7 linked regions of the Homo sapiens genome follow. The protein of the gene in region 6 purifies or fractionates together with the protein of the main gene of each other region. This does not show direct contact. Each region holds a gene or a part of one and is shown on either strand. Other genes may lie near its edges.

Evidence for each region.
Region 1: the proteins of SCGB1D4 (region 6) and NAALAD2 purify together in Homo sapiens (affinity purification with mass spectrometry; 2 studies listed by BioGRID and IntAct, with this or other methods). This does not show direct contact.
Region 2: the proteins of SCGB1D4 (region 6) and ERAP1 purify together in Homo sapiens (affinity purification with mass spectrometry; 2 studies listed by BioGRID and IntAct, with this or other methods). This does not show direct contact.
Region 3: the proteins of SCGB1D4 (region 6) and COL6A2 purify together in Homo sapiens (affinity purification with mass spectrometry; 2 studies listed by BioGRID and IntAct, with this or other methods). This does not show direct contact.
Region 4: the proteins of SCGB1D4 (region 6) and LNPEP purify together in Homo sapiens (affinity purification with mass spectrometry; 2 studies listed by BioGRID and IntAct, with this or other methods). This does not show direct contact.
Region 5: the proteins of SCGB1D4 (region 6) and CACNA2D2 purify together in Homo sapiens (affinity purification with mass spectrometry; 2 studies listed by BioGRID and IntAct, with this or other methods). This does not show direct contact.
Region 7: the proteins of SCGB1D4 (region 6) and CD109 purify together in Homo sapiens (affinity purification with mass spectrometry; 2 studies listed by BioGRID and IntAct, with this or other methods). This does not show direct contact.

Annotation. Positions count from the first base shown.
Region 1 is NC_000011.10:90,189,667-90,193,557, forward strand, and holds the end of NAALAD2 (N-acetylated-alpha-linked acidic dipeptidase 2), read left to right. Parts: intron 1-1,891; coding exon 1,892-2,081; 3' UTR 2,082-3,228; downstream 3,229-3,891.
Region 2 is NC_000005.10:96,790,651-96,794,675, forward strand, and holds part of ERAP1 (endoplasmic reticulum aminopeptidase 1 isoform b precursor), read right to left. Parts: intron 3,397-4,025; exon of another isoform or gene 3,337-3,396; intron 3,308-3,336; coding exon 3,153-3,307; intron 2,864-3,152; coding exon 2,750-2,863; intron 1,543-2,749; coding exon 1,411-1,542; intron 1-1,410. UniProt on the Homo sapiens protein: Aminopeptidase that plays a central role in peptide trimming, a step required for the generation of most HLA class I-binding peptides.
Region 3 is NC_000021.9:46,104,427-46,108,451, forward strand, and holds part of COL6A2 (collagen alpha-2(VI) chain isoform 2C2 precursor), read left to right. Parts: intron 1-4,025. UniProt on the Homo sapiens protein: Collagen VI acts as a cell-binding protein.
Region 4 is NC_000005.10:97,029,795-97,033,819, forward strand, and holds part of LNPEP (leucyl-cystinyl aminopeptidase), read left to right. Parts: 3' UTR 1-4,025. UniProt on the Homo sapiens protein: Release of an N-terminal amino acid, cleaves before cysteine, leucine as well as other amino acids. Degrades peptide hormones such as oxytocin, vasopressin and angiotensin III, and plays a role in maintaining homeostasis during pregnancy.
Region 5 is NC_000003.12:50,367,299-50,371,323, reverse strand, and holds part of CACNA2D2 (voltage-dependent calcium channel subunit alpha-2/delta-2 isoform b precursor), read left to right. Parts: intron 1-943; coding exon 944-1,004; intron 1,005-3,088; coding exon 3,089-3,186; exon of another isoform or gene 3,187-3,421; coding exon 3,422-3,512; exon of another isoform or gene 3,513-3,528; intron 3,529-3,619; coding exon 3,620-3,682; intron 3,683-3,802; exon of another isoform or gene 3,803-3,826; coding exon 3,827-3,930; intron 3,931-4,025. UniProt on the Homo sapiens protein: The alpha-2/delta subunit of voltage-dependent calcium channels regulates calcium current density and activation/inactivation kinetics of the calcium channel.
Region 6 is NC_000011.10:62,296,276-62,300,509, reverse strand, and holds SCGB1D4 (secretoglobin family 1D member 4 precursor), read left to right. Parts: upstream 1-1,434; 5' UTR 1,435-1,499; coding exon 1,500-1,554; intron 1,555-2,851; coding exon 2,852-3,038; intron 3,039-4,090; coding exon 4,091-4,100; 3' UTR 4,101-4,229; downstream 4,230-4,234.
Region 7 is NC_000006.12:73,698,678-73,702,702, reverse strand, and holds part of CD109 (CD109 antigen isoform 1 preproprotein), read right to left. Parts: intron 1-4,025. UniProt on the Homo sapiens protein: Modulates negatively TGFB1 signaling in keratinocytes.

The sequences.
Region 1 (3,891 bases), about 28 Mb from region 6:
GCTGAGGCAGGAGAATTGCTTGAGCCCAGGAGGTGGAGGTTGCAGTGAGCCGAGATCATGCCACTGCACTCCAGCCTGGGCCGACAGAACGAGACTCTATCTCAAAAAAAAAAAAGAAATTTTGCATTATCACAACTCATCAGTGAATACTTACTATGTACTGAGGGGAAGGTTGAGGAAAAAAGACTATGAAGTGTTGACCATATTCTCTAGTCTGCTCAGTAGTTCTTGATGCCTCTTAAAAATTCAGAAATGTCCATTGTGGAGGGTAATTAAATCATCATATACTTGAAACCTTGAGAACTAGACCAGAGTTTGAATTCTTATGGGACTAGAATAGCTATTTGAGTCCACCATTTCATAAAAGGGTATTTGAGTTGCTTAAGCATTACCAATTGTCTGATCATTTCTTTTAGCTTGCTGCCTGCTTCTTATCTGAGAAAATTAGGGAAAGGATTTAGTTTCAGAATAGCTAATATTTACTGAACACCTATTAAATGTCAAGCTATGCTTTTCATCCAACATTTGATTCTCACAATTCTTTTAGAACAGTACTTTTATCACCATCATTTTTAAGATAACAGGCACAGGGAGGTTAAATAACCAGTGCAAGGCCACAAGGCTGATAGTTGATAGTATTCTGTTGATAGTAAATATGCTAGTATTCTGATTTTTAAAAAACAGGCAGTCTCAGTCTACAACCTGCTCAGTCACTACTCTAAGCAGAGTCTACATTATTTCAATTATTTTACAAATCTGGGACAAATTTAGACAACTTAGGCAATTTGCCAAAGGTCACTGAGATATTAAATGCCATATCAATGATTCAAAGGTTATTCGCTTCCTATATCAAATTTTTTTTGCTATATTCTTCCTTTACAATTCTCCAGAAGAGGGTAAGTATACTAAGGAATATCTATGACTTGCATCTCTAATTTCTTGACTCATATACAGGTCAGGATACCAATGCTTATAAACAACTTAGCACATAAACTGATTTTAATTTTAAAAAAATCCATCTGAGGCCATATTAAGATTTAAAAGCCAAGATAATAAATCCTGATGTACTTTGGTAAATCTGAATGATGAGTGTTATAGATTTGTCATTAATCATTAATCATTAATACTGACTTATATGGAGCTCTATATTGCTTCATACAGATTTACTCTAGAATAAGCTTTGGGGTTTGACTGTTGGACCTAATTCCTGATGTATTAATAAAATACATCCCTTTCTGGAAAGCAAAATTCTACGTCATTATTGCGGAAAGTAGCTTGATCCCTTGAGCTACTTATGTTGAAGTAGAAAAGCAACTATAAAACTTTCTTTTTAGATCAAAAGTTGAGTGTCTTTGCGGGCAACCCACATATAACTGTCTTACCTTTGTGGAATGGACGTCATTATCCTTGCCATTTGTAACACTTTGAAATACAGGCTTCTTTAATTACTTGTTTTTTAATGTCTAAAAAGTATTGGGAACAACTGTCATTCTTGTTTAATCTATTTTTAAAAGGCAACACAAAAATAAATTATCTTTCTCAATCTCCTCTTACTAAAAACATCCATAAACTTACATGTTATCACCATATTTGTGGATGCTTACGGGACGCTGAGCAATTATTCTGCACAACTTAAAAGAACCTGCTTTCTTCCATCTGCTTTGGGTTCGCAACATGGTATATGATTCCTGAGATATGTCTTAGCGAATGCATATTGTTAGCTTCTTTCCTGGCTTGAAATTATGATTCGCATAAGTATCTCAGATCAACTGTCTTCTTATTATAGGAACAAAAGTGAGTATCACAAGGAAACATCATGTGGTCTAAACAAAAAGCATGCAAAATGCATGTATACACTTTAGTTCAATTTGCCTTGTTTTCTTCCTTTTAGGCACATCATATTTGCTCCAAGTAGCCACAACAAATATGCTGGAGAATCATTTCCTGGAATCTATGATGCTATCTTTGATATTGAAAATAAAGCCAACTCTCGTTTGGCCTGGAAAGAAGTAAAGAAACATATTTCTATTGCAGCTTTTACAATTCAAGCAGCAGCAGGAACTCTGAAAGAAGTATTATAGAAGGTCTCAAGTGGCTAGCCATTAAAGGTGTTGCTAAAAGTCTGAGGATAAAATTCACCTTTCTGATAACTTATGAAGCCAGGGTGTTCTAAACTCTTTTCATGTCATGTTTTGATTATAGGCTTTGGTCTTTTCATCTGCAAAGCCTTTTTTTTTTGCTCTTTAAAAGTTAATAATTATATTAGCAAAGTGTTAATCTAATGAAGTAAAAAACTCCTGTGTGGCAGAAAGTAAAAGAAAATTCCCTAAATTATAGCAAGGAACATGAATTCTCAGACATTGTGAGTGTGGGAATGTAAAATGGTAAAATCACTTTTGAAAACAGTTTGGCAGTTTCCTATAAAGTTAAACATACACTTTTACTTTAGGACTCCAGAATTCCACTTCTAGTTATTTATTCAAGAGAAGGAAAAACAATGATCACAGCAATACTTGTATGCATGTTCATTGCAACTTAAAAGCGTAAAAACCCCAAATGTCCATCCACAGACGAATGTATAAACTGTGGTATCCATTACACAATAGACTACTTACTACTCAGCAATAAAAATGAAGTAACTTTCAATAAATGCAATATTATTGGCAGACATTGTTGAAGGAAAAAAGCCAGACAAACAACTACATAAAATATGTTTCTATTTAGATGAAGTGGCAAACTAATCTGTAGTGTTAAAAATTAGATTAGTGATTGCCTGGGCCAAGTGGCAGGTTGGGGAGGATGGCTGCAAAGAAGTATGAGGAAACTTTCTCCAATAGATGAGAATTTTCCGTATCTTGATCTGAGTGGCAAATTGTAAACTTAAAATATATATAAAATTTATTGTATGAAAATTAAGCCTCAATAAACGTGATTATAAAAAACAAGTCTGCAAGGAAACCAGAATCATATACCTTCTCTTGTGAAATCACCATGAAGTGTGAATGGTCAGGAAAAAGCCAGTAATATTCATACATTTAATAATTTCAGCTCTACTGAATAAACATATAAGTCTGATGGGTGATGAAAATAGCTACTACAATCTTCATATTCTAACTCCTATAAAGACTGTATATCAGAATCTGCAAACTTTTATGCAGATCCCAGTGACTCAATTACATGTTCAACTATGATTAAAGCTTCAATAAACTTGGTTGTTCATCTACTTCACCAAAACGAGTTAAGAATTAAAAATTAGAAGAGCCTTCATAGGCAAGTACAATAACTAAAATAAGAAATGACAGCTCAAAGCTTAACTACAAGGAAAAACTACCCATTACCCTTGCTCCCAGGCCAACAATACAGTTTAACTTAAAACAGTGGGGGCATTTAGTTTAGGGGCATTTTCTATACATCTCAGTATTACTAGAGGGTATTTCACTGATCCCCCACAATAAAATAAGTTGCAAGTATAGCAATGACTCTGTCATCAAGGTAACTTTTAAATATGTTCCATTCCTTCTGCTTAAAGAGGCAATAAGGTGTGCTATTTATGAAGTATAAATATACACAATTAAGACTTTTGTAAAAGGGAGTTAACTTTACTACCACGCTACACTACCAAAGTATAACACTTTAACTTTTGCCTTGAAGCACTGTGTTGTAGAAAATATACTGCATTAAGACCCATGAATCATACTATCTACTACCCAACTGAGTAGATCACTACGTATCTCTGGGCATCAGTTCCCTCCAACTCTATCATTTCTAAAGGAGACAAAGCACAAAGGTTTAGAAATGTCTTGGGTGTTCTTCCTACTGGTAGTTTTCCTGAAGACAAATGCGAGCTGCCAGAACAGCATATTTGGTCTGAAATATGAGTTTGGAGTAAAA
Region 2 (4,025 bases), on a different chromosome or scaffold from region 6:
GATAATAGAAATAATTGTTATCTATAGTTTCATTGCAGTCTCATCTGAAATCACATATTCTTTTGCAATAAAACACATTTCTTTGAAAACGCAACTGCAGGAACACTGTTAATGTCTGGCAATTTGTGAAACAGAGTAAGCAGGTTAAACCTGGACCTGTTTAGGCAGGAGATTTGTCTAATGTGATTGCTTATGCTCTGAGCCCACTGAGGCCCTTATTTTCTATCAGTAGCCAGACCTCCCGATGGGGCAAATTAGCATCATCTGCCAACTCCCTTTGTTCACATGTGAGTGGGGATAATGGTGCAGATTAAACATTGGACCTTGAGCTACTACCTGGCTCTCCCACTGCCATTCCAGGGCAGGACTAAGGAGAGGCCAGTACAACAAGGGGTGGAGCACTAGAGATGGAGGCAGAGGTAGATGCCAGGGAAGGAAAAGTGGATATGTCCAGGGAGCCCAGGCAGCCTTGAGCATGGAGGGCTGATGGAGCTGGAGTCACAATGAGAAAGGGAACAAGAGTCTTCCCAGACACCCTGTATTCCTTGGTAAAGGGCTCTTTTCCCCTCCACTCCCATTACCACGGATGGTGAGTCACAAACTCAAATGCCTCCAGTGGCACATGACAGGGCATATAAATAAGGGAAGTAGTCCAAGGATAAGAAGAATGCTCTTTTACATTCTTTTTCCCCTGGACTTTCAATGGAAACATGCAAGCAAGAAAGACTTTTCTGTTTGCTACCGGTAAAACAACAGCCAAGCACAATGGTAACTGGCAACACACTCTCAGCCTCGGTGAGAAGACAATAGAACAGTTGGGAATGGCAGGGAAAGTGGAAAAGCAGAGCCTTGATCTTACAAAGAGAGAACAACAACTTAGCTCCAGCTTATGCTGCAAAGAACATACAGTGGCCAAATCCTCCTTTTTCTTCCCCAAGAGAAGCTAGAAATCTGGATTTTACATAAAATCTCCCAATCATTAAACTGTTGTCAACAATTCCCAACTCTGTTACTAAGCACACTGTGCAAGACAATTATTTGCGTCTCAACAATATTAACCATTGCTGAAGGCCTTGAAAAGTAAGCTACACGAGGGCAGGAATTTTTGTCTAGTACAAAGTTGATGCTCAATCAATACCTATTTGTTGAATGATGAATAAAAGCAGAGTTTCTGTAAGCCATGAATTTTCAACCCAAGAAAGAATATATGAAGAATTTCCCATAAAATAATCTTTAGGGTTATGAGCCAAACTGCAAGTTAGTCCTAAAAGAGTTGACTCCAGCCAGCACGTGTCAAGAGAGAAGGCATTCAATCTGGGTTTAACCCCACAACCTTGCCTATAACTTCTCCACCCCAGTATGTATAACTTTAGTATCTAAACTGTATCCTTATACTCAATCTACTTTTACCTTATCATAAGAAACATCATCAAACATCTCCCGGATCTGAGCAGGATTTTCCACAGGTGTAGACACAGGGTGTGAGGAATTTAAAGCATCTACCTCCATTGCGTCAAAACATTTGCCAAAGAAATAATCTCCCTATTGAGATAGAAAAAAGAAAACATCACCTATGATTTACATTTAGATAAAAAATGTCAAAGGTGGGACATTTTATCTGAGGCAAGAAGTCCATACTTCACATTTTGGGGGCAACCTATTCCATATTTCCTAATATTTATGAAACAAAATAGAATTAATATATTCTAAAAGCTACCCAAGAAACAATGATTTTAGTTAAACATTATAGATTTTGTTCATCTTAAGTCCTTTAGAATAAAGAAAATTTCGTATTAATCTAAAAACGAAACAATTATGCCTATAGCCAAACAGCAACACAACAAGAAATTAACTGTATAGTAATTTCAACATTTCCAATCATTGTCTGTACTGTTTTAGAGCAAAGATACTTACCTTTAAAAACATAATGAAAATAAATGGAGAACCTTAACCAGCTTTATTAGAGCACATTAGCTCAACAGGACAATATGTATCCATAATCATTTTTATTACTAAAGATCATGTAGAAACATAAGAAAATATTTAGGATTATAATGCAATATTGATGTGTACTTTCTAATTATGTACACAGGCAGATGAAAATAGGCAGTAATAAATATTCACAAATGTATATTTTAAATAATGTATACAGGCAGATGAAAATAGGAATAAATATTTACAAATGAAAAGAATCATTGGAGTAGGATAAAAAAATTTTTACATAAGTTTAATTTTGCTATATGTGATTTTCTTAAGTTAAATGTGGTGATTTAAAAAATAAACCATATAGCAGTTCCAAAGCAATAAATTTGTGATCCAGAAGCCTAGGTTGTTATACAATCAAATGTGCAGTTACCTTAAGTATAACTCATTTGATTTGGCAAGTAGGGTCCTATTGAGATATCAGTAATCTGTACCTAATAATTCTGCAATGAGCAACCTGAAGGTTGGGAAAATGAAATGGAACATTTAGGCTGCCATTATTTCTATTTCTTTGATATTAAGAAATATAAAATCGGACAATTTACAAACAATCATAGATTCACAACTGAGTTTGTAAATAAGTCTTTGTGGTATATCTTGAAAGTTCACTAGCATTTTTGCAACACGATTCATATCTAAACTGTCAAGGAAGTTATCAGTGAAATATTTTTATAAGTTCTATAATCAAAGATTAGTGAATATTTTCCAGCAATATTGAACAAAACAACAAATTAACCTCAAATGTGAAGGATAAATAACTACTTACAACTTTCAGTTCAGGATGGGTCACACTGACAGACACAAACTCCATAAATTTGGCAAATCCTTCATTTAGCCAAAGATCATTCCACCATTCCATAGTGACCAGGTTCCCAAACCACTAAAAGCACAACATAAGCCATAAACAAAGACACTCAGAAAGAAGTATATTTTAGATGTCCAATATAAGTTTATGAATGTTAACATATATTTACAGGACCAATATTTAATCAAGGTAAAAATAAAAAAAGTTCAACATGCATTATAAGACATAAAAACGAATGCTTTGGAGAAACAATTTTTCCTATTAAAAAAAGACAAAGTAAAAATTATATAAATAGCCTTATATGTCCCATAGAAGCAATATAAATGTAGTTTATACTTTATTAAAAGTGTGAATGAGCTTATACCTGGTGAGCCAGTTCATGGGCCACAGTCATTGTGATGCCAAGCTTACTTGATGCAGAAGACTTTTCTGCATCAAACAACAGAGCAGATTCTCTATATGTTGTCAGTCCCCAGTTTTCCATAGCACCAGACTGAAAGTCGGGAATAGCAGCAAGATCTTGGGAAGGAAGTAATAAAATACATTACCAGTCTCTAAGCTATACATTCTCCCAAACACTAATCTTCAGAATGGATAGGTGTTTGAACCAGCTGCCCGTGCATAATCATGGAGCTCTAGACTGGAAGAACCTTTCACAATGGAGAAAAAGAGGCTTAGTGACTCAGCATCACTTTGCTATAAATGTGGCAAAGTCAGACTTGCATCTCAGGCCTTTTTTTTTTTTTTTTTTTTTTTTTTTTGGAAACAAGGTCCCACTCTGTCACCCATACTGGAGTGCATTTGCAGTGGTATAATTACACCTCACTGCAGCCTCAACCTCCCAAGCTCAGGTGATCCTCCCATCTCAGCCTTGCAAGTAGCTGGGACTACAAGAGTGCACCTCCACACTCAGCTAATATTTTTGTACTTTTGTGGAAACAGGGTTTTGCCATGTTGCCCAGGCTGGCCTCAAACTCCTGGGCTCAAGTAATCCACCTGCCTGGGCCTCCCAAAGTGCTGAGATTACAAGACATGAGCCACCGTGCCCGCCTTTTCAGGCCTCTTGACTCCATTTCTAACCTTCTGATGAGGAGTTTGGAAATTGAAAAACTAAACAATTATAATAATCCATTCTATTTTGGATGCCCAAGACCCACATATACCTAAAAAATCAAACATACAATAGTTTTAAGGGCTTGTGTAAGAAAGAAAATTCAGATTGTCTTACACTATATAA
Region 3 (4,025 bases), on a different chromosome or scaffold from region 6:
AGCAGGCAGAATAAAGAATCAGGGAACTTGAAGATACAAAAATGGAAATTATTGAGTCTGAGGAGCAGAAATAAAAAGATTGAATAAAGGTGATCAGAGCCTAAGGGGTCTGTGGGATACCATCAAGCAAACCAACATAAACATTGTAGGAGCCCCAGAAGAAGAGAGAGCAAAGGGAGCAGAGAGACTATTTGAAGAAATAATGGCTGAAAACTTCTAAAATATGATGAATGACATGAATATAACCATCCAAGAAGCCCAAAAAGCTCCAAGCAGGATGAACTCAAAGAGACCCACACTGAAACATTCTAATCAAATTGTCAAAACCCAAAGACAAAGATTTTGAAAACAGCAAGAAAGAATGATTCATCACATGTAAGGAATCCTCAATAAAACTATTAGCAGATTTCTGATCAGAAACTTTGAAGGCCACAAGGCAGTGGGCCAATATATCCAAAGTGCTAAAAGAATAAAAACTGTCTACCAAGAAGCCCACATCCAGCAAAACTGTCCTTTAAAAGTAAGGGAGAAATTAACACATTCTTAGATCAACAAAAGCTGAGAATGTTCCTTACCACTAGACCTGCCCTATAGGAAACGCCAAAGGGAGTCCTGCGGGTTGAAATAAAGGGTGATAGACAGTAATTCAAGTGAAGAAGTAAAGATCTCAGCCAGGCATAGTGGCTCATGCTTGTAACCCCATCACTTTGGGAGGCCGAGGCAGGAGGATAACTTGAGCCCAGGAGTTCAAGACCAGCCTGAGCAATATAGGGAGACCCTATCTCTATAAAATAAAAATATTTTTAAAAATCGACCAAGCATGGTGGTGCACACCTGTGGTCCCAACTACTGGGGAGGCTGAGGTGGGAGAATCATTTGGGCCTGGGAGGTTGAAGCTGCAGTGAGCTGTCACCACACCACTGCACTCCAGCCTGGGCAACAGAGCAAGACCTTATCTCAAAATAAATAAATAAATAAATATCTCAGTAAAGGTAAATATATAGACAATTATAAAAGCTAATATTGCTGTAACAATGGTGTGTAATGCTGCTTTTTGTTTTCTACATAATTTAAGAGACTGATTTAAAAATAACATTATGCTTTTGGACACATAATATATAAAGGTGTAATTTTGTGACATCAATAACTAAAAGGGTTGGGGACAGAGCCATTCAGGGAGCAGAGTTTTGTTTATGCCATTGAAGCTAAACTGGTATAAATTCAGTGTAGACTGTTATAATTTTAGGATGTTAAAATGCAATCCCCATGGTAACAACAAAGAAAATAACTAAAGAATAAATACAAAAGGGAATGAGGAAGGGATTTAAATGTTTCACCATCAAAAAAATTAATTAAACACAAGACAGTGATACTGGAAATTAAGGACAAAAAAATCCATAAGGTATACAGAAAAAAAATGCAAAATGAAAGAAGTCCCTCTTTATCAGTAATTACTTTAGATGTAAATGGATTAAACTCTCCAAACTCTCTCTGTTAAAAGACAGAGATTGGCAGAATGGATTTAGAAAGCCAAATCCAACTATATGCTCTCTACAAGAGATGCACTTTAGATCCAGAAACATAAATAGATTGACAGTGAAAGGATGGGCAATGACATGCCACACAAATAGTAACCAAAAGAGAGCAAGAGTGGCTATACTAATACCAGACAAGATAGGCTTTAAATCAAAAAAGGTTACAAGAGGGAAAGAAGGACATCATATATTAATAAAAGGCTCAATACAGCAAGATATAATAATTATAAATATTTATGCACCTAATAACAGTCCATCAAAATATTTATATCTTACACTGGGAAGATTGTTGCTGGCTCTCAGTCTGCTTCCAGTCTGCTCATATTGCTTTTGTTGTAATGATGGTCATATGTGGGAGCTCAGTGTCAAGAGGGCAGACTTGAGCCCACACTGCCAGGCTTCAGACCTCAGCTATTAGCTGAGTGCCCTGGGCAAGTTACCTCACTGGGCCTTGGTTTCCTCATCTGTTGGAGTGGGGATGGTAATAGTACCTATGTCCAAGGCCATAAGTCCAATTGTGAATGTTGAATGAAGGGATATAGGACAGTATCTGGTACACAATTATTATAGATTTTTCATTGACATTTTATACATTCTGTTTTCTTCAAAGACTTTTTGGTTCCTGTTTTGCACTCAGATACTTCCTTTTCCTGGAGTTTATTTGGGAGCACCATGTGAGGTAGTACCTTTATTTCTAGTCACAGGGTGAGCCCTCATCCCAGCCTGCTTCCACCACTCTGAAAGGCCACCATGTCATAGCCTAAGTTCTCGTGTGTTGTTATGCCCATGGTTGTGTGGAGTGTTGGCCTGTTCCAGCACCAAAACCAAAACTGTAATTTTATCGTTTCATTTGATAGCACAAGCTTTCTCATCACTCTATTTTTTATTTTGCTCAACTCTTCTTGCTTTTTCTACCAAGTAAAACTTGGATTCATTTTGCAAACTCCTATCTACAAAAATGCAAAAAATTTTCTTGGAAACTTTAATTAAAATTGCATTCTATTATAGATTCAGTTAGGAATAACTGATATTTTTAAATCAGTTTAAGATAGTGGGATGATTTCTTATCCAAAAACAAGGTTTGTCTTTCCAATATATTTCTCAAAAATTTTTTTGAGTTTTTTTCATAAGTCCTGCACATTTTTATTCAGTTGATTCCTTGGGTTTATGTTGTTTTTCTTACTAGTGTAAATAGCATTTTTCTGCAACATTTTCTAACTGGTTGTTAGAAAATGTTTCTTCTAACTGATAGAAGAAAATCAATAACTTTTTGTATGTTGAGGACTAAGCTCTGATTTTTTTATCTTGCCTATATTCTTATCTAAGGGGTCTGGGGAGTCATGCCCTACAAACCATAAATTCTCATCAGATGGTTTTATCTAACCCTATATGCTGTGACTTACTTTCCATCTGACTCTGGCATGACACTACACGACCAAGAAGAAAATAAAAATATTTTACCCCAAAACATGTTTCTTTGCCACATTTTGAAATGGCCCTGCAAAGCTGTCCTTTACTGGGGAAAATTTGCATCTGTAAGGAATCTCTGTTAACATAGCTAGCTCTTTTTCTTCCAGGCCCTCCCAATTCTGAAGAGATTAACCGAGAGTCTAGCAGCTTTTAAAGGTCTCAGTAGGAAACACTTGTCATTGATTGTCTCTAAGGGCAGCCACTATGAGACTTCAGAAGAACCTTGGTCTCCACAGTCTTTTATCTTAACCTGAGCATTTCCTTTCTATGATCCCAGGTCTTTAGACAAACTCAACCAATTGTCAACCAGAAAATGTTTAAATTTACCTGTAGCCTGGAAGCCATCTCTCCCCGCTTTGAATTTTCCTGCCTTTCTGGATTAAACCAATGTATTTCTTAAATGTATTTGATTGATGTCTCATGCCTCCCTAAAATGAATAAAACCGAGCTGCACCCCAGCCACCTTGGGTACATGTTCTCAGGACCTCCTAAGGGCTGTGTCATGGGTCATGGCCACTCATATTTGGCTCAGAATAAATCTCTTAAAATATTTTACAGAGTTTGACTCTTTTCATCAATGATATATTTTTCTAAGTGGCTCACTAAATTTTCTCTCCCTAATCTCCCCTCCTTTCTCTTTCTTTCTCTCTTTCTCTCTGTCTATATATATATATATTTTTTTTTCTCTTTTTTAAAAAAACTTTGTTCAGATGATTTTCTGGGTAGACAATCCTATCTTTAATAAGGACAGTTTTGTCTCTTCTTTTCCAACAGTTATACTTTTATTTTTACTGTCTTATTGCATTGGCTTCCAACACAACACTGAATGGTAGCGTAAGATCTGCACTGTTTGCCCCCACCCCATTTTTTTTGTACTGTAGTAAGCATTCTTCTAATGCAGGATTTTTTAACCCAGGGTTAGATCTACGAATGGAATCCCTGAATTCCTGGACATGATTTCTGTATATGAGCATCTATGCATTTGTGTAAGGTGAAATTGTGTAGACTCTTAAAAGGGTC
Region 4 (4,025 bases), on a different chromosome or scaffold from region 6:
AAAATGAGGGAGGATGTCCGAAACTGTATGGCATTTTACTCCTTCTGAAAGAGAAATACTGTACTTGAATTTTTGAGCTATGCAGACTTATACCTAGATTGTTGTGTTTCTTTGATTCTTAGGAGAAAAGCTTTCTTCCTAATAATTCTTGAGAACTTTATATTTTGTTTGAAAACAGTTTCTATGTACATAAAAAGGGTATTTACCCATTTGTGAGCACTTAAAACACTCCACAGAGTCAGACAGTGGGAAAGGTCACCCTTTTTTTATTCGGCAGGTATCAAGTTAGAATGTATGGAATTGTGAATAAAATTATATTTTATTTTATGAAAATATTTTTATATAATAAAATTTAAAAGGCTGGTAAGCTAAAAAAATAGTCTTCTTTAATCCTAGTGTGTTTTCCCCAATTTAGTCTTTTCTAAAATTTATCTGTTTTAGAGTAGAAAATATTATATCCTGAGAATCACAGAATCATCTAAATATGTCTTATTCAACTGAAGTGATTGTAAGTCTTTATTCTTGTGCTTTGGTTAAATGAATGATAATTTAGTTGATAGTGAAAGTTAATGTGTTTTTATATTTTTAGAGTGAGGGAAAAATACTAAACTTTTGAGAGTTTTGTTGTCGTTGCTGGTTTTTTACCATGTGGTACTAAATTCCACTTTGATACAAAATTTAAATTTTGTAACTTCTCAAAATCACTTAAGATTCTTCAGTTTTACCTGTGCTTCTTGACATCGCTCCTATAATGTATGTTAGTTAACTCTGCATATGGCAAATCTTGTCTTGAATTATATCATTTCTCTCCCTCTCTCTCTCTCTCTGTGTGTGTGTGTGTGTGTGTGTGTGTGTGTGTGTGTGTGTGTGTGTGTAGTGTGGGGGGTATTGTTATGAGTAAAACTTTATCAAAACTTGGCCTGAAAAAGAGATAACTCATGATCCATTGCTATCTTTATTACTCAAAGGCTGTTCATTCCCATAATACCAGATCCATAATAGTTGTAGTTTTTTTGATGTTGTTGCCCTTACCTTAATTATTTGTAGTTTTAGTAGGCCTTGCCTCAGTTTTTCCCACAGAATTCCATAATTTTAATGTTGAACTAACCCATCTATATAGGACTTCTAAAAACTACGTCAGGAATGTAAGGTTAAATGAGAGGTAGAACTTGTAGTGTAATAGGTATAATGGTAGCTTTCAAAGTTTTATCTTCTCAAAACATTGTCTTAGCCAGTGTATTTCTGAGAACTCAGACTGAAGCACAGAAGTCACAGTATGCTTCTTTTATTTAAGCACACAGATTCATGACACAAGTACTTGTTGAACAAGTGTTCTCATTGCAGAGAGATCTACTTGAATATAAAAGGGTCATCATACTAGATTATTAAAAAAGAATTGGAAATCTTGAGTTGTGGAAGAAATGTTTATGCTTTGGAGATCTAAAAAAGTTATGAATGTAGGAATTAGATAAGTCCAGTTTGTTCTGTTAATATAAAATGGTTAGATATATTAAACTGCAAGTAGTATCAGCTTCACCATAAGCTTGGGCCTTCCTCCATCTTGTTTTATTTAAGTCTCTTTAAATGAAATTTTGTTGTCATTGTTTCAGCATTCATGAACTTTCTTACTATCACAGGTTCTACTTTAATTTTCCTTGCCATATGTGTTTCCATTTTGTGGGACATTAGCCACCACAGGAACACAAGAGTTGTCAGAAGACTCCTGGGTGTACAGAGCAAATCAAGCTGCATCAGTATTATAGGATACCAAACAGAATCCTTTCTATTAGGAAATAAGAAATCAGTTAAGTGTTGGCTGGGCGCGGTGGCTTATGCCTGTAATCCCAGCATTTTGGGATGCCAAGGTGGGCAGACCATTTGAGGCCAGGAGTTCTAAACCAGTTTGGCCGACATGGCAAAACCCCATCTCTACTAAAAATATAAAAATTAGCTGGGCATGGTGGTGCACACCTGTAATCCCAGCTACCTGGGAGGCACGAGAATCACTTGAACCCAGGAGGCGGAGGTTGCAGTGAGCCAAGGTTGTGCCACTGCACTCCAGCCTGGGTGACAAAGCGAGACTGTCTCAAAAAACAAAAAACAAAAAAAAAAGAGTTAAGTGTTGATTTTGTTGGATTACTGACAGTTTGTTGAGATGGATTTTAAAAAGAGTCTATTTAAACCAAAGTACCTGGAACCATAATCTGCCATCAGATTGCTAAACATTCACATAATCCCCATGTTTCATGGGGCTTCAGGGAAGGCAAATACATCTGAGATGAGCCACCTCCAAGGACAGCATTTCCTGGGCTGCAAAACTAGATGTGGATTTTGTTACTTAGGCCTCTCTAAAAACTGAGGCCATGGATATGACATAGCTTTTCTTCTCACCTATGCCTTTGTTACTTTTGTATTTATTGGAATTAAATCTCTTTTTAAAGAGCTTCCTTCCCCCTTCATCCCATTTGTATTTTTAAAAACTAAGTTATATATATATTTGCTTGTTTTTGCATTCTTTTATTTTGTGCTCCATTCCCTGCTTTGCCAGTTAAGTACTACCTGAAAAGTAGCGGTTCAAAAGTATGGTAAATCTCCTCCCTTAACCTTATTGCCTGTGTGGGTGACAGCTAATGGAAAAGTTGATCGATTTTTTTCAGTGGTTTTTTTGGGAGTATATACTTTAAAAATGTACATACATGTTTTTGATAGTTTTTATATTATTTCATTTTGTATATTTTTTTCCTGATGAAGAGTGATATATCATCCTATGAAAATTTCATCTACCCTTCCCATTTTACCTGTATGGGCAGTAGCTACAGACTAGTTATTTGGTTTCCTTCTTTGGAAGAAGGTGGTGATGTTGAGAGGAGAGCAAGCTATATTCTTTTAAAAGTGTGTACAGATGTTTTTGCTATTTTGTGTTATTTCATTTTGTATTTCATTCATCCATTTTGTGGACGTGTAGATAAAACGCGGTGGTCCAAAAGCATGACAGATGTCCCCTTTGCGTTTCTCCTTATTGTTCGCATGGACAATAACTGACAGAGTAGTCCTAGTTGCTGTTGTTTTGATCTAGTCTTGGGGCTGGGGTTGTATATTATTCTTTCAAGTGTGTATAAATATTGTGCCACCTTTTTATACTTCATTTTATACTTGTTTCCTTGTATGGATGCATATATACTTAATGAAAATTGAGGTTCAGAGTATGACAAATCTCTTTTCCCTTTTCCTTACTGCCTATTTAGGCAATAGCTAATAGAGTAGTTTGTTTTGTTTTGGGGTGTGGGGGAGAGTGGAGTATGTACTTAATGTATATAAATAAACTTGCTACTACATTGTATTACTAATTTGGTTCACACTGTGTCCTTCTCATGGATGTGAAAGTACCAATGAAATGTGGAGATCTCGATGTATAACAGTCTCCCATTCTCCTCATCCCTTATTGACTGCTGGGCAGTAGCTAACAGAGTAGTTGTCAAGTGGCGTATTTGAGGTGAGGGGGAGGGACGGGGAAGGTAGGAAAATGCACTTAATGTATATACATGTTTTTACTACTACATTGTATTAATTCATCGGGTGCCCAGACTGAAAGGTACCTAATGAACCATGGAGTTCCGGATGTATAACAGTCTCCTCTTTTCCCTTTCCCTTATTGCCCATGTGGGCAATACTTAAGAGTAGTTTGGGTTTATTGAAGATTTTTTGCTAGGAGAGAGAAAATTTTTTGCTAGGAGAGGTTTCAAGGTAAGAGTATATACTTTAAACATGTATATAAATGTTTTTGCTACTTTTCTGTCACTACCTTTCTTACCTTGTCCTTTACATGGATATATGAAGAAAATTGAGGTTCAGCCTGTAGCAGCTCTCCTCTTCTGCCCTTCCCTTAGATTGTCTGTGTGGGCAGGTGTCTAAGAGAGTAGTTGATTAGCTTCAGGGATTCTTTGGTGGGTGTTGGGGTATATACTTTTGTATATGTATGTACATATTTTTATTTCTTTATTATAGTGTTTCATTGGGTACCCGGT
Region 5 (4,025 bases), on a different chromosome or scaffold from region 6:
GCACAGCTCATAAGCCCAGGGCACAGGCCCAACTGGGGATGCCTCAACAGCAGCCCTATGCCCTCTCTGGAGCCCTAGCATCCCCCATGGCTGCCTGGAGCCCAGACAGGTTTTAGGAAGGGTGGAGACCCAGCCCGTCTCCACGCCCTTAGCCAAGGGAAGCAGGTACAGTTTCCAGCAGCACCCCTGTCCTCCTTCCAGCTCCTCAGACTTTCTTCCCACACTGTGGGAACACTCCTTGGCACTTTGAGGGTCTCCCTTCACCTCCTAGCCCAGGGAGGACCACCAGCCCCGACAATGCACTGCAGTGAACCCTCAGCTGCCCCGACCCGTCTCTGGTTGGACTGTTTGTGCCCGTGAGAAACCCCCTCGGTTTGGCCATGTTGATGCCTGACACAGAACAAAAGCAAGACCTACCAAAACGCAAACAGCTGCGGCAAAGAAAGAGAGAGAAAAATCCGCAGCCAAAAGCCAATTCCCTTCCTCAAAGTCTCTTTGGAGGCAAAGGAAGCTCAGCATGCGGTTTTTTCCATTATGGATGTGATAAGAGCGAGACTGGCGCCTCCCCCAGACCATGCATATATATAGCAGTGTGTGTATATATATGTGTGTGTGTGTGTCCGTGTATATGTGCTATACAGCCGTATGGAAGCATATACAGCCACGCCAAGGGACTCACTGCCGACAGAGGACCAGGCCCGGGCAACATATTGGCTATAACTGCCCTCCTCCTGCGATGCTGTAGTCTCCACAGGCCCTCCACCCTCCCTGCCCGTCCCTTCTCTCTGGCTCCTGGACGTGGAAATGGCGGGTTTCCTCTTTGCTGGTGTCTCCCCCTCCCTCCAGCCCCCCTCTCCCCTGTCCTTCCAGCCCCGTCAGCTCTGAGCCCCCCGGCCTCCAGCCTCCCCAGCCCCCGCCGGATAACCCCCCGTTTCTGTTGCAGATTTTGAGTTCCTGCTCCCCAGCAGCTTTGAGTCTGAAGGACACGTTTTCATTGCTCCCAGGTAGCTTGCGTGTGGCCTTGCTGAGGTGTCCTCCCCTACCCTGACCGCCCCGGCCCCACCTCCTGCACTGCTGCCTGGAGCTCTGTGTGTCTGTGTCCTGTGCAGTGTCATCCCCCGGCCCCCATACATCGCCCGGTATGCGCGGCTGTGTGCATACCCAGGCCATGTACCGCACCAGGCAGCAGTGGCCAGCTGCCTCACGGCCCTAGCTCCCACCAGGCCGGGGCAGGAGGGCTCCAGACTCATCTGCTGACTTTCCCTGCCCTCCCAGGCAACCAGGCAGGAGCCCTTTCCGCCCTGGGGTGGCTGTCTGTGGCATGCCCACCCCTCGCCAGGCAGCTGCTGCTCTGGTTTGTGGTGTCCTGCCCATCCCCCCAACCCCGCACCCCATCGTTGTCCTGTGTCAGTCGGTGTTCGTGTGGGTCTGGGGGCCGAGCCAGCCAGAGCCCCTGTCGGCAGTGCCGGGTCTAGGCGTGGTACTTCACTTGGGGGGTTGGGGGAGGAGAGTGGGGGCTTTGAGGAGCTGCTCCATCAGATGAGGAGACGGGGCCCCGAGCAAGCCCAGGCCTGGACCATCCCGGAGTGCACGCTCAGTGTGCACACACACGTTCTCATGTACACACCGTCTGCCTTTGGCCCATGTCTGGGGAGGCCGGGTCCCCTGGGTGCTGAAGCCCTTCCATGACCCAGGCTTGGGATGAGGGCAGGTGGGTGGATGCAGCTGACAAGAGACCCAGGGGCACTGGAAGGCAGCACACGGGGGCTCTGGACATGCCTCACCTTCGTGTGTGCACGTATGTGCATGCACCCAGTTTCTCTGTGACTCTCTCTGTAGATGTGTGTATTTGTGAGTCACCATGTACATATGTAAGAGTCTGAGCATAAATGTGGGGGTGGCTCTGTGTGTTAGTGAATGTGGGAAGGTGTGAAAAGACCTATGTGGCCCACATGACCCTGAGGAAGCTCTCTTGAAGGCAGGGACCCTATTCGTTTTTGTCATCTCTGTGTCTGTGGCTCAGAAGAGCTCAATAAATACGTGGAGGGTGAGTGAATGAAGTACCTCACAAATGTGCACGTGCATACTGTGTATACAGGAGAGACTGCAAGTGACTTGGTGTATCTCAAGCACAGTCGTGTGGGTGTCACCCTGGGTGTGTCCAATGTGGCCTCTAGGCACAGAGGTGCAGGCTGTACACTGCACAAAGGCCCTGGGGGCCAAGGAGAGAGTGGGGCCTGAGACCCAGTTCCATGTGCCCTTACCAAGCCATGAGCCCTACCACAGCTTGGGGAAGTGGCACACGTTCAAAAGCCCCACAGTTAGTGCCATATGGGACAATGAAGCGGTCCCTGGTGGCAGAGGTATGAATGAGGGGTCGAGCGAGAGAGAGCTCCACCTATCAGGGTAGAGGGATTGCTCCCAAGACTTCCTAGGCAGCAAGCCCCAAGCAGACCCCCTCACGCCCCACAGCCCCATGTTCTCTGGACCCAGAGCCTGAATGCAGTGAGGGTCTTGAGGGGAGGAGCATTCCAGGCAGAGGGAACAGCCAGTCGGAGGACCCACATGTTCCCACTGACTTTCTGACACCCTCTGTGCTATGATGAAAAAAGCGAGGGTCAGAGAGCGTGAGTGAGTTACCTAACGGCACACAGCCAGGAAGAGGCAGGGTGAGGTCTTAGGCTGACAAAAAGCCAGTGCTTGTACTTGGGTCCCATCTGGTGCCCATGGGAATGCTCTAGGGCATACACGTGGATGAGCAGGCCGCCAGGCATTTCCTGGGGCCTTTCAGGTGCACTATCTGGGTCCAGCTACACCGGAGAGACGGGAGGCTCTGCGGAGCCATGCCCAGGAGAAAGCAGCTGCCCGAATGGAGAAAGTAGACCCTCATTCTTGTGTCAGCTCTGCCCCGACTCAGACCCGAGCAGCCTGCCAGGCATGTAGCAGCTGCAGCCAGGAAGAACCCATGTGCCCCTCCCTGAGGCCCAGGCTTCTCAGTGAATGGCCAAGTGGGCCTGTTGGGAAGCCTTGACCCCATTGCCCTGTCCAGCCCCCCAAGCCCACTCTTCTTGCCCCTCCCCATCCCTAGAGAGTACTGCAAGGACCTGAATGCCTCAGACAACAACACCGAGTTCCTGAAAAACTTTATTGAGCTCATGGAGAAAGTGACTCCAGACTCCAAGCAGTGTGAGTGCCTGGCAGGGCAGCTGGCTCTGGGCAGTGCCCAGGCAGCATGGGGCCAGCCCAGAGGAACCCAGAGGCCGGGCAGGTGTGGAAATAAGCAGGCACAAGCTAAGGGCTGGGCCTGGGCCAGGGCCAGGTCATGGAGGAGGCTCCTGGTGGAGCCTTAAGGGTGGGGGTGAGGGTGGGCAAGGAGCTGCAAGAAGATGCCCCCACCCCCACCCCTCCCCTCCTGTTCCAGGCAACAACTTCCTTCTGCACAACCTGATCTTGGACACGGGCATCACGCAGCAGCTGGTAGAGCGTGTGTGGAGGGACCAGGATCTCAACACGTAGGCATCACCCAGCCTGTGGGGGCAGAAGGCTAGGATGGGCCCAGAGGCCCTGGACCTGCCCAGCAGAAGGCAGGCCTGTGACCCCACCCCCCTGCTACCCCCAGGTACAGCCTACTGGCCGTGTTCGCTGCCACAGACGGTGGCATCACCCGAGTCTTCCCCAACAAGTAAGTGACCTATCCCACTACCCAAACCCTGCCCCTGCCAGGGAACCTGCATCTGTTCTGCCCAGAGGCCTCCTTGCATCTGTGGAGACCACTGTCCCCGACAAGCCACCCCTTACCTACCAGTCTGCCTCTTGGGTGCTCCAGGGCAGCTGAGGACTGGACAGAGAACCCTGAGCCCTTCAATGCCAGCTTCTACCGCCGCAGCCTGGATAACCACGGTTATGTCTTCAAGCCCCCACACCAGGATGGTGAGTGTCCCCGCAGTGTGCCCAGCAGCAGGCAGGGAGCCTCAGCTTCCCTGTCTGCTCAGCCAGAACTGGGCTCTGCTGTCTGAGGCCCCTCT
Region 6 (4,234 bases):
ACCCTCATAGCTGTAAACCTCACCACCAACCCTCCCCCTCCTTGGTGGCAGCAGGGCTGATTCAGGGACTCCGTCGTCATCCTGTGTGATGAAAGTGAGATCCACTGTTGCCCTCAGCTTGGACTCAACTAAATCTGTCAATGTGTCTTTGATGACAAAACCCGTAAGGTCCCCTTCCTTCTTAAAGGTTTTCCTGGCTGGATCTCAGCCCTGCTGTCTGTGAGAAACACCAGAGCAGTTTAAACAGTACAGAAAGGAGGGATTCACCCCAATGCTACTGAATCAAAATCGCCAGAGAGAGAAGCCTGTGGGGTCAGTATGTTTTAAAAGCTCCAAGTGATTTGACTACATAGCTGAGAATGGAAAGCTATGGCCTGGGCTGTGACTCCTCTCAAATGTAAGTTTATTTAAGAGAAAAATTTCTGGTGATTAAACTCACACCACATGAAGGCACGGCAATGGGAGGGAAGGCGGGTGTGTATTGCTTTGTCTGGGGGCTTCCTTCACTTTCCCTTAAAAATGGGATTGGCCCAGGCAGCACAGATAGGTTTGAAGTGGAAAACTTGAGCCTAGGGGTTAGGGGGAAGTGACCACCCACCCTGTTCCTCTGTCTCTTCCCTTCTATTATCTTCCCAGCCTAGAGCCCCACTGATGTATGATTGGCTCTGAACACTCCAAAAGCTCTTGAGAAAAAGAGTTAGGTTATTTAATCTTCAGATCAGCCCTAAGATAAGACGTGGGTGGCTACACATCACAGAAAGCTTGCTTTTTATAGATAGAAAATGTGAATCTTGGCCATATATATAACTGCACGTATAAACAAGATTCAGGTTTGGGAGTGAGGCAGGCTAGAGAACAGGTGCAGCAGATGTTTTTCCTCAGCATATCTTCTACAGGTGGGATGTATTCAACTATGTTTTCAGTACCTATGCAGTGAACATGGTGGTGATGGAAGGGGCTGAGGGGAAGGATTAGACTTTCCCAATGTGCAACTGAAACAAGCCTGCTTGTTGTCAGACATGCAGGGGGATCAAAGCAGGGTCTCCTTATGTCCCTGCTCTCCCATAAAGAGAACACAGCCTTCCAGCTTCCTGTGCCTTGTGAAGCCATAATTCACCTGTGCCCCTGCACTGCTACAAAGATAAAAAGAACTAATCAGCAAAAGCTCATAAGGAAATTGAGGATCCCAGGAACATTTCCAGATGTACCTGAACACTCACCTGGAGCACAGAGCAGAGTTCTCACAAGGCTGCTGTCTTGTGCTCCGCCCCACTCAGATGCAGAGATTCCTAAGGAGGTGACATTGATGGACGGCAGCAGCCCTGGCTTGGAAGGGCGGGCTGGGAGCCAGGCCTCATGACCTACCAGGTGCCCCGGTAGGTAGGACCAGCCAGGCTCCCTAGGTACAAATAGCCCTGGCCTCCATGACTACACAGGCTCCTGGAGTCGAATCCAAATCACTCATTGTGAAAGCTGAGCTCACAGCCGAATAAGCCACCATGAGGCTGTCAGTGTGTCTCCTGATGGTCTCGCTGGCCCTTTGCTGCTACCAGGGTGAGTACATCAGTCATGAGTCCAGCACCAGCCCCTGGGATGCACCCTCTTCTGAGCACAAGATCACCTATTTGTGCTTTGGGTTGGGGTCTGCACAAAACCAAACAAAATTCCAAACCCTTTTCTGTGCTTGTTGAATAAGATTCATAAAGGTTAGAGCTATTTCTTCTTTCTTCTTCCTTTTTTTTTTTTTTTTTTTGAGAAGTTTTGCTCTTGTTGCCCAGGCTGGAGTGCAGTGGCATGATCTTGGCTCACTGCAACCTCTGCCTCCGGGGTTCAAGTGATTCTCCTGCCTCAGCCTTCCTGAGCAGCTGGGATTACAGGCATGGGCCACCACAGCTGGCTAATTTTGTATTTTTAGTAGAGATGGGGTTTCTCCATGTTGGTCAGGCTGGTCTCGAACTCCCGACCTCAGATGATCTGCCCGCCTCGGCCTCCTAAAGTGCTGGGATAACAGGCATGAGCTACTGCGCCTGGCTGCTTAGAGCTATTTCTTCTAATCCCCAGTATCTAAGAAGTTTTATAGAAAAATCAGTTCAGGCAAATGTTAGGAATTCTTCTGCCTGAGCTTCACTTCTGAATGGGATCTGTGTCAGATGATGTAATGTGAGGTCTGGGGTGAACCTGGGCTTCGACACTTCCCACCCCTTGATCTTGGGCACAATGCTCACCCTCCTTGAGCCTCCTCTTATCACTGGTGGTTAAAGCTTCTGCCAGGAGTGGCTATGAGAATGAAGTAAGGTTATGGTTGTCAAGAGTCAAGCTGTGGGCCAGGCATGGTGTCTCATTCCTGTAATCTTAGCACTTTGGGAGGCCACAGTGGGCAGATCACTTGAGCTCAGGAGTTCAGCACCAGCCTGGGCAACATGGCGAAACCCCATCTCTACAAAAAAAAAAAACAAAACAAAACACACACACACACACACACACACACACACACACACAAAAGCGGGCATGGTGGCAGGCACTGGTAGTCTCAGCTACTTTGGGGGCTGAGGGAGGATCGCTTGAGCCCAAGACATTCAGGCTGCAGTGAGCCGAGATTGTGCCACTGCATTCCAGTCTGGGTGAACCTATCTCAAAAAAAAGAAAAAGAAGTCTAGCTGAGGATATGAAGCTCTTCCCTTTGTTGTGTGACCCGGAGAAAGTCACACCTGGAGTTTCTGGTATTGTCATCAGCACAATAATGGTATAGAAACATAGAACCCAGGGGATCCTGTCTGGTGTAACCTCAGGGAGCCATGAGAGAAAAATCGACTTTCCTAACATCAACAATATTTTTATTTTTGTGCTGCAGCCCATGCTCTTGTCTGCCCAGCTGTTGCTTCTGAGATCACAGTCTTCTTATTCTTAAGTGACGCTGCGGTAAACCTCCAAGTTGCCAAACTTAATCCACCTCCAGAAGCTCTTGCAGCCAAGTTGGAAGTGAAGCACTGCACCGATCAGATATCTTTTAAGAAACGACTCTCATTGAAAAAGTCCTGGTAATTTCTTTCTCCTTTATGCAGAGGCAGAATTCAACTCAGCTGCACACAGCCTCCTGCATGTTTCTTGTCAGGTCACCTGCCTGGATGCTGTGTCCCCAGAGTGTGCTGAGGACATGGGGAGTGAGCTAGGGCCAAGGCAGGGATGGTGAAGGGCCAAGCACGGCCGCCTCCCTGCTGGGATCTTTCCTGAGGTCAACCTACCCTCACGCAGTGGACACGGTCACTATGGGATGTCCCAGGGAGTGTGGGAGATTTGAACAGGGAGAGGAGGCTTGAGGGGACCTAGAGCTGGGCCTCCCACAGACAGGGTGCTGGTGAACTGGGCTCCTGTGCAGCTTCTGCAGAGCCAGGAGCCCCTTGCAGCTCCTCAGGGCCCACTATCCACTCCTCATCCATGACACTCTCCTGACCACAGCCAGTGGGCCAAGACTTTTTCGCTGCTCTACCTACTGCAACGCCACACAAGTGGGATGTTCTCACTATGTCTTTCTCAAGAAATCAGAGATTCCAGGGCCCTCTCAGCCTGGCTGCCTCTGGATTGTTGTCCTGAGGTTTGGCTGCAAATACCCATAGAAGCTGCAGGGTCAGGGCTGATAAGACCCCTGGCCGTTAGGCAGAATTCTCCCATGGGAAGACTGGAGTCTCCTGGAAGGTGTGTTTCCCAGAAGCCCTCCCTGCCCTGCCTGGCTTCAGAGCCCTGGGTCCCCCATTACAGGGATCAGGAGACTCCACAGACCTGGGACAGCCCAGACAACAACCTCTTGCTGCACTGTCAACCCCTCCCCTCCTCCTCCATGAAAACCCTGGGCCTAACTCCTGGGTCTTCCCAGGTCTATTGGTCTGGTGGGGAAAGGCTGCTTTCTCACCAGAATGGGTGTTGTAAGGCCACCAGGTCTAGGCCTCAGTTTCCCAAACTGAATTCTTGCCTCTGCCTTTCCAATTGCCATTGGGGCAAAATCCCATTGGCCTCTTTGATGTTAGCCTATCATCACCAGCAGCAGCATGACTGACCTCACCTTTCTTTCTTTCTTTCTTTTTTTTGATTTCAGGTGGAAATAGTGAAAAAATGTGGTGTGTGACATGTAAAAATGCTCAACCTGGTTTCCAAAGTCTTTCAACGACACCCTGATCTTCACTAAAAATTGTAAAGGTTTCAACACGTTGCTTTAATAAATCACTTGCCCTGCACATCT
Region 7 (4,025 bases), on a different chromosome or scaffold from region 6:
CCACAGCCACACAACCACTAAGTGGAATGGCCAGCACCTGTGCCCAGGTAGCCAGGCTCCAGAGCCCAGGCACATCGTGATTATGCTGTGGTCCTTTATTCTCAGGTACCACCTACCTGTTAATATACATCACACACAAGAACAAAGACGATGTGTGAATGAAAAGCCTACACCCTTTAAAAATAATTCTAACATAACTGCAGGTTCAGACTGAGTTATGTTGGCAAAGCTGCCTGTGAAAACCTGCTCTGGGAGATCTGCCCACACACTACACTAATTAATCTACTTTCATAAAGACCATGGGACTGATTTTTATCTACGAGGCATGAAATGCATGTTCAGGAGCTTTGTTTCCACCAGAAAACCATCCAAACCAAATTGGATGATTTTTTAAGTTTTTCAGCTAATATCTCAATTTTTAAAAATTTCCCACCCTTACTGAGCCAAGATGGAAAATAAAATATATCATAGTCAATGTGAGAAAGACAACAAAGGAAAAAATAGATTTTTTAAAAAATCTTTAAAAAAAGGTTAACACTCCATTAACTCTCCAGGATTTTAGGGCAAAAAGAAAAAGCGAGTTACAGACACATTTATAGAGCACATTCCACCCCAGTAACTCAATGGGAAGATGGAAGTAGGATTGGCAGCATTTAAAAAATGGTGCCCCCAAACCAGCAGGCACTCACCTGGAGACGCCCATGCAGAGTTCCCAAAATTTCAGTAGGCATTTTCAGTTTAGGTTTTTGGGAGTTTTTGGTTTTAAGGGTTCTTTTGTTTTTGTTTTTGAGATAGAATTTCACTGTGTTGTCCAGGCTGGTCTCAAACTCCTGGGCTCAAGCAATCCTCCCACCTCAGCCTCCCAAGCTCTGGGATTACGGTTGTGAGCCACTGCACTCAGCCTCTAGCATTTTTTCTTAAATCAGGTTTACATGAAACTAATGATGATGAATTCATTAATGAGGGAGAAAGGTTATATTCTTTATTACTTGAAGTGACTCTTGTTCAGGAAAACTACTGAAAGTTTACAAATGAAAATGTCAAATTGTAGCAAGAGAAGGGAAAATAAAACAGAAATTATGGTTTCAAGGACATCACGAAAATTAAATTATTTTATATGCCTTAACAGATGAGAGGACAGTTCTCAAAATGTTCTTAATTTCTTTTTTCTTGATTTGGCAAGGAACTCCTTTCACAGTAAGGAAAGAGAAAAAAAATATGGGAAGAGACAAAGGGACAGACTCACTCTCCACCCAAAACAGTAATCTGACTTGATTTTAAATGCCAATAGCTGTGCCATCTTCTTTCCTCTGGTAATTATTACCTGCTGAACTTTTACTACGTTTTGCCAGTTATGTTTATTTAACTAACTCTTTATGCAAAGGAAGATAAGATTAGGAACATAGTTCTAATCACTATGGAGCTGATGGCAATGATGCTGATAGTGGTAGAGGCAGTGACAGTGGTAACAGTGACAAGCAATCTTTTGAATCTCACTACTAGAAAGGCATTGATACACCTTCCCAGAACTCTGCAAAGTGTAGCAGAAATACTTTTTCTAAAGGTCTATTATTCACCAAAAAAAAAAAAAAAGCCCATAATCGCTGGGCACGGTGGCTCACGCCTATAATCCTAGCACTTTGGGAGGCCGAGGCAGGCAGGTCACGAGGTCAGGAGTTCAAGACCAACCTGGCTAACACAGTGAAACCTCGTCTCTACTAAAAATACAAAAAATTAGCCAGGCATGGTGGCACATGCCTGTAGTCCCAGTTACTCGGAAGGCTGAGGCAGGAGAATCGCTTGAACCAGGGAGGCAGAGGTTGCAGTGAGCCGAGATCGCACCACTGCACTCCAGCCTGGGTGACAGAGTGAGACTGTGTCTCAAAAAAAAAAAAAAAAAAAAAAAAAAAAACTACAATCAATCCCCAATAAATGTAGAATTAATGTATTTTTAAATGAATAACAGTAATATAACCTACACTCCTGGCCATAAAAGTGGAAATGTAAATAAAATCTCCCCCATATCTGTCAAACAAACAAATGAACTCTTCCCTGAAGAAATGCCATACTTTTTCACCTTTATTAAATACATTCTCCATTTGAACAATTTAGTTATTACTATTTCCAACACAAATTGAGCCAGAAATCTATTGTGGTTTGGGTAAAACACCTCCCTATCCTGAGGATTTCTAAGAAATCCAAAACTGCTGGAAATAAGCTACTAAGACACAGTCTACTGCCTTACCCAACTTTACTAGAAGATAAATCTTTATTAAAACCAACCTTCTGTTGGGGGGCTGGGGGTGGCTCATAGGAAAATGAAACAATCAGGCTCATACCCATAATCCCAGCACTTCGGGAGGCTGAGGCAGGAAGATCGCTTGAGCCCAGGAGTTCAAGACCAGTCTGGGCAACATAGCAAGACCCCATCTCTACAAAAAAAAAAAAAATTTTAAACCTAGCATGCTGGCACTTGCCTGTAGTCCCAGCTGATTCAGGAGGCTGAGACAGCAGGATCACTTGAGCCCAAGAATTCCAAGTTGCAGTGAGCTATGATTTCACCACTGCACTCTGGCCTGGGCAACAGAGTGAGACTCTGTCCCTTAAAAATAAAAGGTATTTATTTGTTGGTGTTTGGTGTTTATGTGATGGAGAAAAAACAAAACATGAATCCACATCCAGATACTTGAAGATCCAGACCCCTGATTTAGAAGTCCTGGTTTATCTACATATTGTTACAACTGGAGAAGCCAGATAAAGCAAAGGATGTGAAGACAAGCAGGGAGAAGTGTCTTGATCCTCAAGTCCTCACATTACAGGAAGCATCTGCTCTGAGAACAATAACTCCCAGCCTCTGATAATACAGTAACATTCTCCTTTGAAACAGGAGAGTGCTCCTAGCAATGGCATTTTCAATGAAACTCTATGTCAATAGAGTCAAAAACAGCCCATGAAAGAAGCAGCGTTTTCCCTCCTTCCTTCCCACAGATCCATTCTGCTCCCAGGACAGCTTTGCCCGCCCCAGTCTTGAGTACTTGAACTTTCCTATGGGCATACAAGGAACCCTTCTCCCAAAAGAAGATCTAAGAATAAAGCTGAAAACCAAGCCACAACAACATGCACCCCAATGTAGGTACTATTTGTTGCAAAAAAAAAGAGAGACTGATAACAGAGATCACAGAAAAGACCTAACAGGTGAAATTCTAGAATTAGAGTATGTAAATGTCCAAGCAAAGCTCAAATATTTATCAAAAACATCCATATATATTCTGGATCTCTGCATTGCAGGAAAACTGCCACACTAGTGGAGCCAATATTATAAATTCTTTTTTTTTTAACTTTTATTTTAGTTTCAGGGATACACGTGCAGGTTTGTTATATAGGTAAAATGCCTGTCATAGGGCTTTAGTGTACATGTTATTTCATCATCCAGGTGATAAGTGTGGTACCCAATAGGTGGTTTTTTAATACCCTCCCTCTTCCCACTCATAAATTCTTAATGAATAAATAATGAATGTGGAACTACCTTAAGTATTATGTCCTGTGATTTAATATTTCAATATTTTCTTTAGCGACTATCATAAGATCAGGGGTCATTCATTTTCAGAAATGATAGTCCAATAACGAAAGTTGAAGTCTGCCCCCATGTAAAAAGGAAATGGACTTTCTGCATCCTCTTCTGCAGTATTATTACACTAATAATATTAGCAATTGTTGTTTATTGCATGCCTAAGAGGTACTATATACAGATTTTAACTTTATAACTGCCCTGGGAAATCAGTTTCATTATTTCCATTTTATAGACAAGGAAACTGTGGCTCAAAGCAGTTAAGTAACCTACCTAAGATCATACAACTAGTAGCAAAGTAGTACCAGGATTCAAACTCAGATCTTAAGGGCTAACCTATACTTCCCCTCCAGGGAAATAAGACCTCCCACTTCCCTGACATTGCTTCTATGAGGGACAAAAGTGACTTGCCCCTACACACACCATCTCTTCCTGACTCCTATTCCAAATATACCTA